Homo sapiens: one gene and its partner. The protein of the gene in region 2 binds, or shares a complex with, the protein of the main gene of each other region. Each region holds a gene or a part of one and is shown on either strand. Other genes may lie near its edges. The genes, in order: KLRC4-KLRK1 and ULBP3. A codon is read from its position in the direction of its gene.

Region 1 (7,188 bases), on a different chromosome or scaffold from region 2:
TATTTAAATTGTTTCTTAGGTCTTGCTATGAGAAATAATGATACATTTCATACCCATCTGTGCATATTTTTGAGTCTCTCTCTGGGATAAATTCCCACAATGATAATTGTTGAGGGAAAGGGCATGTGTGTTTTAAATTTTGGTAACAATTGAATATTTTAGTCCAAAAAGGGATTTTTACATATAGCACTTTGCATTCCTTAAATTAATTCTTGTAAAGAGATGCTATTTGTTAATAATTTGTTTCTTAGTTTTTAATAAAAATTGATAAGTGAGGGTCATCTGTTGTTTTCCTTTTCATACAAACTATATAAAGGTCTATTACCAATAATATTCTGCTTTGAAAAAAGTCATTGGAGAATATATCTTCTTCACTGAACTCAGAAACAATTCTATAAATAATAATCAAGCTACCACTTCTATAATGTTTAGGAACATATCTCTGGAGGGTTTTTAAAATATCTTTTCTCTTCTCTTTTTCATTTCTATTTAGTTTTCTTTTCAGTGATCTCTTAGAAACTCCTGCCTCGATTATATTATCATGATAATAAACTCATCATTTTTTAGGGCGTGACAATATTCTAAACTCAATAGCTTTTAATACCATAATTTTATTATATATTTTAATATTATATGAGAGTTCATGTTATTCCTGCTTTCCTCATGAAGATAAAGTCAACTGAATGATTGCCATTCATTTAATCACATAGTTTCCAAGATTCATTTCAATATACTGAGAGTAGACAAATGGAACATAGGACTTACCATTTTCTCTACATTTGCTTTTGACTACTGGACATCTTTGCTTTTGCCATCGTGTTGAAAAATCACTCTTCTTCAGATCCAAGTTATAATTATGAAATTCACTCATCTCTAGAGAAAAAGAATTCAGGCTTATATGAGTCATGGCCTTTCTGCCATTTGGGGCATAAATTTTAAAAATTCAGCTTGCCATTTCCATCTATGTACTTCCCCTGACTATCCTTTTTAAAGTACAACATGAACTTACTTTTGTTTTATAGTACTACATTATTATGTTTACACTTTACTATATAAATAAAACTATATTTATGCCATGGAAAGTACCCTTAGCAAAATCCTATATACTATTAAAATTAGTTAATTCGTAATGTATAATGAAACCTAACATTACCAGAAAGGGACTTGGTTAGTGAAAAGGCAGATGTAGGGAGAAAGACATGTATTTAAATCACAGATCCACATATACAAACTTGATAACTTCACAAATAACCTAGCTTTTGCATCCCAGTTTTCCTAATTTGCAAAAGACGAAAGAAATAAAAAAGAAAAGGATACTGTCACAATCCAGTATGGGTATTTTAAAAATAAAATAAAAATATAATGAACTTAGCATCAATAACATCAATCATTTAGTAAGCTTTTAGTAAATAGCAGTGTGTCTAATTTTCTTCTTTTCTTTTTTTTTTTTTGAGATGGAGTGCAATGGCGTGATATTGGCTCACTGCAACCGCCGCCTCCTGGGTTCAAGCGGTTCTCCTGCCTCAGCCTCTTGAGTAGCTGGGATTACAGGCTTGTGCCACCATACCTGGCTAATTTTTGTATTTTTAGTACAGACGGGGTTTCACCATATTGGCCAGGCTGGTCTCGAACTCCTGACCACAGGTGATCTACCCACCTCAGCCTCCCAAATTTCTGGGATTATAGGCATGAGCCACTGTGCCCAGCCATCTAATTTTCTTTATAATGAAGGACATACATAGGCTAAAATAGTGGGGTCTAATGATTTAGAACAAAGACAGATAATCTTGCCTCTGAACAAAATACCTAAAGAATCATTTTGCTCTCTTGAAATATTAATTATTTACTGATGATTAATATTTACTTAAAAGCCTTTTTTAAACTTTTATTTTTGGTTCAGGGGTGCATGCGAAGGTTTGTTACATATGTAAATTCATGTCACGGGGGTTTGTTGTACAAAAGCCTTTTATAAATTAAATGATAATATGAATTATATTTTATAGGTAAAATTAGACATTGATTGCGCATGTAATACCTAACTCAGTTATTTTACATATGGAGTAAAGAGAGTAGGTATCACTTTATGGATGAAGAAATTGAATGCTAGAGATGGCCAAAATCATAAAGCTTATTTAATATAATGTTACCAACTGTGAATAAGTTATAAATTTATAAACACCTTTAGGATAAAAAGTGCTTTAACATACATGTCAGTTGATTTGAATATTACACAAATCTAAGATAAATATGGAATGTTTCATGCCTGTATTTGATAGAAAAAGAAACTAAACTAAACTACACAGAGGTTGCAAATTGACCCTTCAAATCTAGAGAGCGGTAAAAGTTTGAGTAAAATTCAAGTCTGACTCCACATCTATTTCACTATTTCAAGCTGTCCCAAGTTGTGAGCGACTTTACCATAATATAGTTAATAAAATAAAGGGAAAAAAGTTTTTAAGTTTTGGAAGACTTGATTTAAAATACAATATGAACATAACATGAAATCAACATAAATAGAACATGAAAAGAATCAGAGTAAATTGCTTGCCTATGCCTTATATGCTTGTATGAAATTCTTGGTATCTTAAAATTGTATAAAAACAAAACTACACACTTATGTGGTAAAAACATACCCCAGCTGTGTCGAGACCTCCGACCACGAATCCACCCCATCAAATACTTATAAGTGCACGTCTACCGCAGAGAGGAATCTAAAGTCTTCAATGCACAAAGGATTCCTGAATAAAATAAAACTGGGCATTTGTTTTTTGTTCTCTTTCCCGTGGTGAGATAAAATATTTTGAATAGAAAAGTAAAATGCAGAAACTTTTCCCCTGTGCATGCCTTTAAGAAAAGAATAGAAATGACAATTCACATAAAGCCAGGCAAAATTAATTTTATACATTTCTCTTGGTTGTAAAATAATCGCCAATTACTTCAAAATGTCATAACAATATAATGAACCTATTAATTCACCTACATTGAGATATTTAATACCAATATTTTACTTTACTGATATTAGATAACAACACACCCAGTTTTCTGTTTATAGTCGTTTATTGCTTCTTGGCCTTTTAGCTAAGATCAAGTGTTTCCAGTTGTTTATTTTATCTGGCAATAATTTAGTTTTCTTTCTGCAAGCTAAACTCAGGTAAGTTATATGCACTTTTGTTGAATGTCCTTTTCTAGTGCATTTTAATCCAACGTGCCCATATCATCATCATCAACAAATTATCATCACCATCATCATTAACAAAACTAATCTCACATGTTTATATAGTAACATCTTAGCAATGCACAGCAGAGCTTCCAGAAAAAACCATTTAATAAATAAGCATAGTGCTTAGATTTCAAAAATAAAAGCTATTTCATATTTGATTATGATAGTTGGAAAGCACAGATATAACTTGTTTCACCTTGCATGTAAAGATGTGTATCAAAGGTAAGTGCCCCCTACAGCATCAGAAAACTCAAAAATTTGACAATTTAAATTGAATCTCAATTCTTCTCATCCTAAATGTAAAGATTCATTTTTCTAGTTTTGCTTAGAGACAAGGCTTCTTCTTATAGTAATATTACAACTTCTGATTCTTCAATAAGTATATCCTAATTACCTATCATCAGATACAGTGATAGAATATACATCAGAAATGATAAGCATTCCGTATCCTCAGGAGTTCTATTCAAGCATCTAAGAAACAATTAGAATTACCTTATAGTGTAAATATTTTTATTTTTTTGAGGTTGAAATATAATTTCTCATATCTTGAATAATAAACACACACACATACACACATACACACACCTGCTCAGAGAGGGAAGATCTTGATTCTTGTGGATAAAAGCCTTCTATAAAACTAGAAAATTTAGATATGTCCTCAGTTCCTGATCTAGAATTGAAAGTGGAGATACTTAGTGAATTTCTATCTTTGAGAAAGATGTGACAAATATTATAATCTCATCTTCCTGTGGAAAAACATAAACCACAGTACTTCCGCCTTATCACTACAAAAATATTGTTAATTTGGTAAAAGAGTTAAGACCACCCATTGTTGGATAAATGTTAGGTTGGTGCAAAAGTAATTGTAGTTTTGCCATTATTTTAAATAACATTTTAGGATTTGAAAATGATGAATTTAAATGATGCCATTTAATCCTAAATATTTTAGAGATTCAATTCAATTCCAGTTAATACCTCAGGTTTTGTTGTAGAACTTACAAAGCAGAATTCTACATGTACATTAAATTACAAAAGTCAAGACTAGGAAAGTCACAATTGAAGATGAAGAAAATGTGGGAGCCTTGTTTTACTAGATAGTAAGACCTATGTTAAAACCGTATTAATAAAGGCAAAGTGGCATGTGGGGCATAGATAGACAAATTGAGAAGGGTAAAAATACAGACAAGAAAAAGTCATGTGCATAGATTAAAAAATATAAGGTAACATTGCAGATAAAGTGGGAAATTAGCTCCTATTCAATAATTTGTCCTGGGTTACTATCACACTGGCCTTTAAGTTACAAAAAATTAGTCCTGGGAATTTTTAAATTTTAATATAAAAAACATGAAATTGCATCTCTGTCATATCTACATCATATGCAGGAGAATTAGAAACTTAAATATATACCCCAGTATACATAAGAATAATATATGAATTGATACCAATGAACAAGATAAGCTAAATATATATTTTATGTTTATTAATTTAAAATACTAACATAAGACATCATATAAAGTAATATAAGATGAACACATTATAACATTTTAACAAAAACCAAAGCTATTAATCTTAAAACTCTGAAATATAAGGAAGGAAAACAGCTTTCATGTGGTGATGTGTTAAAGTTGGACAATAAATTTATTCAACATTTTTTTTCTTTAGCGAATGCTATTTGCTATGCACTTTTCTAGATCTTGAGAATGTCAAAGTAAACAATCCAAAAGAAAGTTTTTGCCCACATGGAAATTAATTACTTTTTTTTTTTTTTTTTTTAAGAGATGGAGTTTCACTCTTGTTGTCCAGGCTGGAGTGCAACGGGGCGATCTCGGCTCACTGCAACCTCCGCCACCTGGGTTCAAGCAATTCTCCTGTCTCAGCCTCCAGAATAACTGGGATTACAGGCATGTGCCACCACACCTGGCTAATTTTTGTATTTCTAGTAGAGACGAGGTTTCACCATGTTAGTCAGGCTGGTCTCGAACTCCTGACCTCAGGTGATCCTCCTGCCTCAGCCTCCCAATGTGCTGAGATTACAGACGTGAGCCACCACACCCAGCTGGAAATTACTTTTTAGTTTAGGTGATATAAAATGAATAAGTATAAAACAAATTCAAAATTAAACAAGATAGGTGAATATAAAACAAGTTGAAGAAAATATGTTATTTTCTGACATACCAAGATTCTTTTCAGCTAATCAACATTTTCTATTAGCTATTTTATATAGTAAAAATAGATCTATATAGAGGAAATATAGGCTGATATTTTCTAACAACTACATTTTAACAAATATTTGGTTTTTGAAAGGAAATGAATAAATGAGTAAATGCAGGCTTTTTATGGGAAAAACCTGAATCACAATTTCCTGAAGAGTTATTTTTATATATGTAGTTTTCGATTGAATAGAGATTGTCTCTTAAATACAGAATTGAGAAAAGGGGGATAGGAATAGGATAAAAAAGAACATTTGAATATCCTACCTATTTCGTTTAGTTCAAATGGCAACTTACAGCCAACTGGGAAGTCCCCACACATACCTAAAAGAAGATTTCTGAAATAAATACCATGATAAAGCTAAGCACCAGGGAGAGTTTTATTGTCATATATAAAGGTCCCTAAACCAACTGACAGAGTGTGGAAAGGATTCTTAAAGAAGAAAATTCTAAAATGGGTCCTGTATGTCGGGTTAAAACAATTAGTTAGATAAAGAAATAGTATGTTAAAACTCCAATTTCTTTCTCAATGTTGAACATACACTCACTTTGCTGTAGTCATGATAGTAAACTTATTGGGGATTTGCTGGGCATTTGTACTGGTTTATTCTATGTGAATTGCAAAAGGACATAGCATAGTTTTCAGATAAAATACTTTCTAATAAGTGAAATAAAACCAACGCAATTAACTTCTGCAGAAAGAATAATTTGACTATAAAAGTACCTGAACAAACTTCATATAGACGTATCTATATAACTTTCAAAAACTATTGTTAGAAGAAAAATTACAATATTTTGCAAACAGCCTGGGCTCAAGTCATTTGAGAACATCCATCACCACAATAAACTATTTAATTACTTTCATTAGTTGAGAAGAGCCAACAATCAACCGGCCTTTTTGGTCAGTAAGCTAACTCGCACTGTGGCCTCAGAAAACCCTTCTCTTCTGGTACACAGGAAAGACTTAACACGCAGCCAACTTGTGGTTAGAAACAGAGTGCTTGGCAGGTTGCTGGCTTCAAGCTGTGACACTAAAGCTGGATGTGGTCAGAGGCGTTTACTGGACGCTTGCCCAAATATGAAAGCTTAAGATGTGCAGCTATTGCCAAGCAAAAATTTTGTAATCTTGACCTTTTGGTAAATGTGTTTGAATTGACAAAAGACATGTCAAAAAGGACAAATTTTTAAAATTCACATGGACAATAAAGAAAATAAAAAGGAGTGGAAGAAATAGAGCTGAGTCTTTGGATATGCAGGGGCATCTATGGCCACACCACCATGATGCATCCAGTCTCGTCTGGACACGCATGGGCATATTGAAGCAGAAGTGAAATGATGACTAATGTAAAAGTAAAAAAGTCTGCAAACATATTTTAAGAAATATGTATATATATATTTTCAGAACCTATTTTCCATTCAGCTAGGTATTAAGTACTGGGCTACACATACTGACATATAATGTTAACTGGTGTATTGTAATTATATGAACTCAAGGCAGAGATTCCATAAATCTGGAATTTATACTTTGGGGAAAAACAGGTCATCATCTTGGCAATTAATTAATTTTCTCTGGCACAGCTTCCTAAGCCAGGAATGATTAAATGATTTTTTTGCCCCATCTCAGTTGAAATTTTGTATAATTCTAAAATTTAGCAATTCAATTGAAATATCTTTAGCAAATATTTGTGTTATATTAACTTAATCCATGCTAGGACACACCATTGTTTTGATTGTTTAATTGCAATCTATATGGTATAA
Region 2 (5,757 bases):
CTCTGGTATAACTTCACCATCATTCATTTGCCCAGACATGGGCAACAGTGGTGTGAGGTCCAGAGCCAGGTGGATCAGAAGAATTTTCTCTCCTATGACTGTGGCAGTGACAAGGTCTTATCTATGGGTCACCTAGAAGAGCAGCTGTATGCCACAGATGCCTGGGGAAAACAACTGGAAATGCTGAGAGAGGTGGGGCAGAGGCTCAGACTGGAACTGGCTGACACTGAGCTGGAGGATTTCACACCCAGTGGTGAGTGAAAGAGACCAAGGACAGAAGGGAGCAGACTGTGGGCTCAGGGGCTGTTCTGTGTGTGGGGAGAAGAAATTAGACATGGGACCTCCATGAAGCCCAGCAGCAAGGGCAGGACTTGGAGGAGACAACAGGACCAGATGAGAATGGTCTCAGCATAGGAGGATGTGGGACAGGGAAGAGAATTTGTAAACACCAGGGCTGATCTCTTTCTGATTGGGGCAGGACCCCTCACGCTGCAGGTCAGGATGTCTTGTGAGTGTGAAGCCGATGGATACATCCGTGGATCTTGGCAGTTCAGCTTCGATGGACGGAAGTTCCTCCTCTTTGACTCAAACAACAGAAAGTGGACAGTGGTTCACGCTGGAGCCAGGCGGATGAAAGAGAAGTGGGAGAAGGATAGCGGACTGACCACCTTCTTCAAGATGGTCTCAATGAGAGACTGCAAGAGCTGGCTTAGGGACTTCCTGATGCACAGGAAGAAGAGGCTGGAACCCACAGGTAACTGACAGGGGAGCACTGGGAGCATGTTGGAGATGCCATCGAGTTACACCCTTGTCTGTCAGTGTCTGAGTATGGTGGGTGTGGGTGTATGGGTGTGAGTGGGTGTGAGTCTATGTATGTGTGAGTGTGAGTGTGTGTTTGAGTGAGTGTAAGAACATGAACCCCTCATGGGGGCCTCCTCCTTGGGGTGCCTATGCTCTCCCTCCTGACTCCTCTTCCTCACTGCACTTGCTTTTGCTCCACTCACTGTGGATTTCTCACCAGCCTCAAAACTGTGGGCGTCATTGTGTTTCTAGACCTTTCTCCTTAGATTTCCCTCCTCCTAGGATCACTTTTCCTTTCCTCTCCCTTGGTTTGTTTCTGGAAATCCATCAAAACCACCTCGAATGGCAGCCCCGAGACTCTCCTGTCCCGGCCCTAGGGCATCACCTCCTCTTCCGCCACAGCAGGAGGGTGGGCTGTGCTGTCACCTTGCTTCCCTCAGCAGCTGTGTGAGCTCCCTGAGGACAGGGAGCACCCCTTCTCCCTTCCTACCCCCAGGACCTGTCACAGCGGCTGCCCCACAGCAGGGGAGACAAATCCTCTGCCTTCCCGGATGACCTGGGGTAGCAGGAGCTAAGGAGCCATCTCCTCAGATTTGGAGCGTGGACAAGAGTTGTCACTTTTGTGTTTCCCTTTCAGCACCACCCACCATGGCCCCAGGCTTAGCTCAACCCAAAGCCATAGCCACCACCCTCAGTCCCTGGAGCTTCCTCATCATCCTCTGCTTCATCCTCCCTGGCATCTGAGAAGAGTCATTTAGAGTGACAGGTACTGTGGGCAAAACTGTGAGGGGAACGAGAGACAGATGGGTGAGGTGGGAGGAAGGGAAAGGAGAATTTCCAGAGTCCCACCTCTCCCCATGGCCGGGACCTTCTCGTTCTGACATGAGACAGGTGAATGAGACCTGGTGTCGCCTGTTTGCAATGACCTGGGCAGCTCAACCTTGAGTTCTGATGGATTCTCACCATCAGGGCCAGAGGGAAAGGGAGGGACCCATATCAAGGCTCAGGGCCGGTTGAGTTCAAGAGGGTTTAGACAGTTCAGGCCTATTTCACAGCAGGTTTCTATCTGGGAAGGGTAGTGGTGTGTGGCCTGCAGGCAGCAGGAACTCAGGCATGGGCAGTCTGCACAGTAGGAGAGGAGTAGCATGGCCACTTCACCAAGGATGTCAAGGGAAGGGGTGTCCCTGGAGGAGGCTAAGAAGAGAGAAACCTGGGGGAATCCCAGGACGAGGGGGCTGTGAGGGCCTTGGCCCACCCAGTTCCTAAGGCTGCATTCCCAGAGAGAGCACCTTGAGTCCCAGCAGTTAAGGTGGAAGGTGAAGAGTAGAGCGTGTCCAGGATGAGGTTTAGGAAATGGCCGAGCCCCTTGGACCCATGGGATTCCTGGCTAGGCCCTGGGACGATGCCACTGCCATTCTGCCTCGTGCACACTCCAGATCCTGAGCCAGCTGATGGCCCTGCCTGGAGCAGAGTGGACTCAGCTAGGGCAGCTGAGCTGCTGCTAGAGGTCCGTGGTCACCACTGAGCTTGGCCAGGAATGAATGGGGCAGGGCAGGGACAGTCCCATTCAGAGCTATGGGTGCAGCTCCCAGGGTGAGGAGAGGCTGAGAGCGAAGGAGAAAGAAGGTTTGCCTACAAACCCACCCAAGGCCAGGGAACATGGATCCAGAGACCTCTCTTTGGACAGGGCTCCCCCAGGTCCTCTAGACCCTTCTATGAAAGGGAGGAGCAGGCCCTGAGTGAGGGTGCAGACCCCTCATTACCAGCCTCAGGTCTGAGCCCCTATGGGCTGTAACAGGACCTGGGCTGCCTCTGTGGTGTGGTGAAGGAGGGTGGAGGTTGGGAAAGGCTGCACAGCCAGGGGTAGGGTTGGAGGGAAAAACATGTTCCTTATCTGGGGGAGAAGCTCTGAAATGGGGAGGGCCTGGGAAGGATCACCCAGGAGAACAGACCCAGGTTTTTCTCAGCCACTTAAACCAATGCTTCATCTTTCCTCAAGGTGGAAGGTGATATCAAGAAGCCTCTGTTAGCCTGGTCTGGTTCCTGCTCTCCCTTCAGGGAGGCCGCCTGTCTACTCACCACTGTGCCTTTCTGGAAAGCAGGAGTTCAAGCCTTAGCAAGCCCAGAGGCCCCCAGCAGATGATGAGGACATTGTCGGCTCAACATCTCAGGCCACTCATTACCTTCGCTCATGATCCCAGCAGCCATTTTTCTTTTTTTTTTTTTGTTTTTTTTTTTTTTTGAGACGGAGTCTCGCTCTGTCGCCCAGGCCGGACTGCGGACTGCAGTGGCGCAATCTCGGCTCACTGCAAGCTCCGCTTCCCGGGTTCACGCCATTCTCCTGCCTCAGCCTCCCGAGTAGCTGGGACTACAGGCACCCGCCACCGCGCCCGGCTAATTTTTTGTATTTTTAGTAGAGACAGGGTTTCACCTTGTTAGCCAGGATGGTCTCGATCTCCTGACCTCATGATCCACCTGCCTCGGCCTCCCAGAGTGCTGGGATTACAGGCGTGAGCCACCGCGCCCGGCCAGCCATTTTTCTTAACACCTTCTGCCACTTTCTCTCGGTGCTAATGGATGGAATTCCTGCACAAGTTTTAACTGAACAAGAAATCCCAGCAAAAGGCATTTTCTTTCTACTTCTTTGATTGTGGAAAAGCAGACATTTCTCTGAAGCATGACCTTATTCTTCGAAACGGTATTGCTAGTAAAATAGCATGCAGGACTTCAGACCTCAGGGATCCTTTCCATGCACTGACCAAGAATTGTATTAATCCTTTTTATCATTATAGTTTTTTTACATTTTCTCATTCTGTCAACCATATTGGAGTGAAGTGGCATAGTCATCACTCACTGTAATCTCCAACTCCTGGGCTCAAGTGATCCTCTAGACTCAGCCTCTAGAGTAGCTGGGACTACAGGCGCATGCCACCATGCCTGGCAAATTGTTTTATATTTAGGTAGAGATTGGGTCTTCCTATGTTGCGCAGGTAATAAAACTGTGAAAATCCTGGAATATAAGCTAAGAAATACCAATGTGGACATAGGGCCTGGCAAAGATTTCATGAAGAAGACACTAAAAACAATTGTAACAAAAACAAAAATTGACAAATGGGACCTCATTAAACTAAAGAGCTTCTGCACAGAAAAAGAAACTAGCAACACGGTAAACAGACAGCGTGTAGAATGGGGAAACTATTTGCAAACTCTGCATCTGACAAAGGTCCAATATCCAGAATCTACAAAGTACTTAAACAATTAGACAAGCAAGAAAAAAAAACCCAATTAAAAAATGTGCAAAGACATGAACAGACACTTTTCAAAAGAAGACATACAAGTGGCCAACAAACGTGAAAAAATGCTCAATATCACTAATCATCAGATAAGTGCAAATCAAAACTGCAATGAGTTACCATCTCTTACCAGTCACAAAGTTGGAGATGGTGGTGAGGCTGCAGAGGAAAAGAAACAGACACTGTTGGTGGGAAAGCAAACTTGTTCAGCCGCTATGGAAAGCAGTTTGGAGATTTCTCCAAGAACTTAAAATAGAACTACCATTCAAGCCTGCAATCCCACTACTCGGGATATATCCACAGGAAAAGAATTCATTTTATCCAAAAGACACCTGCACCAATATGTTCATTACAGTGCTATTCTTACTAGCAAGGACACAGAATCAACCTAAGTGCCCAGCAACACTGAATTGAATGAAAAAAATGTGGTACATAAACACCATGGAAATCTATGCAGCCACCAAACACAGCAAAATCATGTCCTTTTCAGCAACATGGATGGAACTAGAGGCTATTATCCTAAGCAACCTAATGCAAGAACAGAAAACTACATACTGCATGTTCCCATTGGAAAGTGGCAGCTACACATTGAATTCACATGAACCAGAGGCACTGGAGATTACTAGACAGGTGAGACAGGAGGGGCACCTGGGCTGAAAAACCACCTGTTGGGTACCATGCTTACTGTTTGAGTGATGAGATCATTGGGACACCAAGCCTCAGCCTTCCAAAATCTACCCATGTAACAAACCTGTATGTGTACCCTTTAATCTATAATAAAGGTTAAAATTAAAGATTCGTAAGTAAAATAAAATGACATAGAGCCCTCCAAAAAATGGGGTTAACTGAGTGGAACGAGAGAACTTTGCACTATGAACGCTAACCCAGATCAAAAACTAAACTCTAGTCATTTAAAATAATCGTAAGTTGTATATGATGATAATTGTATAAAAGTTATACGTGAAAGTGCCAAACCCTAAAATTAAACACTGCATAATGAAATTATACAAGATTTCCATTTCCATCTTGTTCTTTATACCCTTACTTTTTTTTTTTTTTTTTTTTTTTTTTGCCAGTTTCAAGTGACATTTTTTTTGTTTATCCTCAGGAAATCCTTGCTGTCAGCCTTCTCCTTCTACACCCACCCCCTCCTTTTCCACCGTCCACATCAGCTCTTCCTCTGGTCTGGGACTGTGGCATTCTTGGCACTGAAGGCACAAGAGCTGCATTCAGCCTCAGGAGAGAGGAGGACACAGGGCAGGTTGTGGAGGTGGTCTCACCATTGGAGGGGAACCTAACAGCTTAGGCCCTCTATCACAGATGGCTGTGTTTCTCCACCAGGTTAGCTACAACCAAGCCAACCTTGCCCCTTTCCTCATTGTTTTTTTTCTAATTCTTCCCAACTCGTACTTGAAAATTTATATTCTTCCTCCTAATATTTCTTCGTATTTCTTGTCTGCACAATATATCCTGATTTATTGTGCCCAGAAAACAGTGGACTCACCATGTCCGTGACAGCTGCAAGGACACAGTCTCCACTCACTGGAGGGGCATGCTGGGCTTGGAGCCCCTCAAAAGCCCCTGCCCCAGAGAACTCTATTTGACTAGTCTGGGACTCACTGGAAAAGCCCCATTCATTGGGTTTGTCATTATTTGACCAGCT

What was found.
Region 1: the proteins of ULBP3 (region 2) and KLRC4-KLRK1 are in contact, whole or in part, in a crystal structure (PDB 1KCG), measured with the Homo sapiens proteins. Residues at the interface, in NP_078794.1 of Homo sapiens: His42, Leu43, Pro44 (codon at 31), Trp50 (codon at 49), Glu97 (codon at 190), Gln100 (codon at 199), Arg103 (codon at 208), Leu104 (codon at 211), Ala107 (codon at 220), Asp108 (codon at 223); in NP_001186734.1 of Homo sapiens: Lys150, Ser151, Tyr152, Ile182, Glu183, Met184, Gln185, Lys186, Ala193, Tyr199, Glu201.

The regions. Positions count from the first base shown.
Region 1 is NC_000012.12:10,386,138-10,393,325, forward strand, and holds part of KLRC4-KLRK1 (NKG2-D type II integral membrane protein), read right to left. Parts: intron 5,755-7,188; 5' UTR 5,698-5,754; intron 3,905-5,697; exon of another isoform or gene 3,806-3,904; intron 2,739-3,805; 5' UTR 2,674-2,738; coding exon 2,634-2,673; intron 874-2,633; coding exon 766-873; intron 1-765. Other genes in the region: KLRK1 (NKG2-D type II integral membrane protein), read right to left, coding at 766-873, 2,634-2,673.
Region 2 is NC_000006.12:150,060,395-150,066,151, reverse strand, and holds the end of ULBP3 (UL16-binding protein 3 precursor), read left to right. Parts: coding exon 1-253; intron 254-478; coding exon 479-754; intron 755-1,438; coding exon 1,439-1,545; 3' UTR 1,546-1,567; intron 1,568-2,800; 3' UTR 2,801-5,099; downstream 5,100-5,757.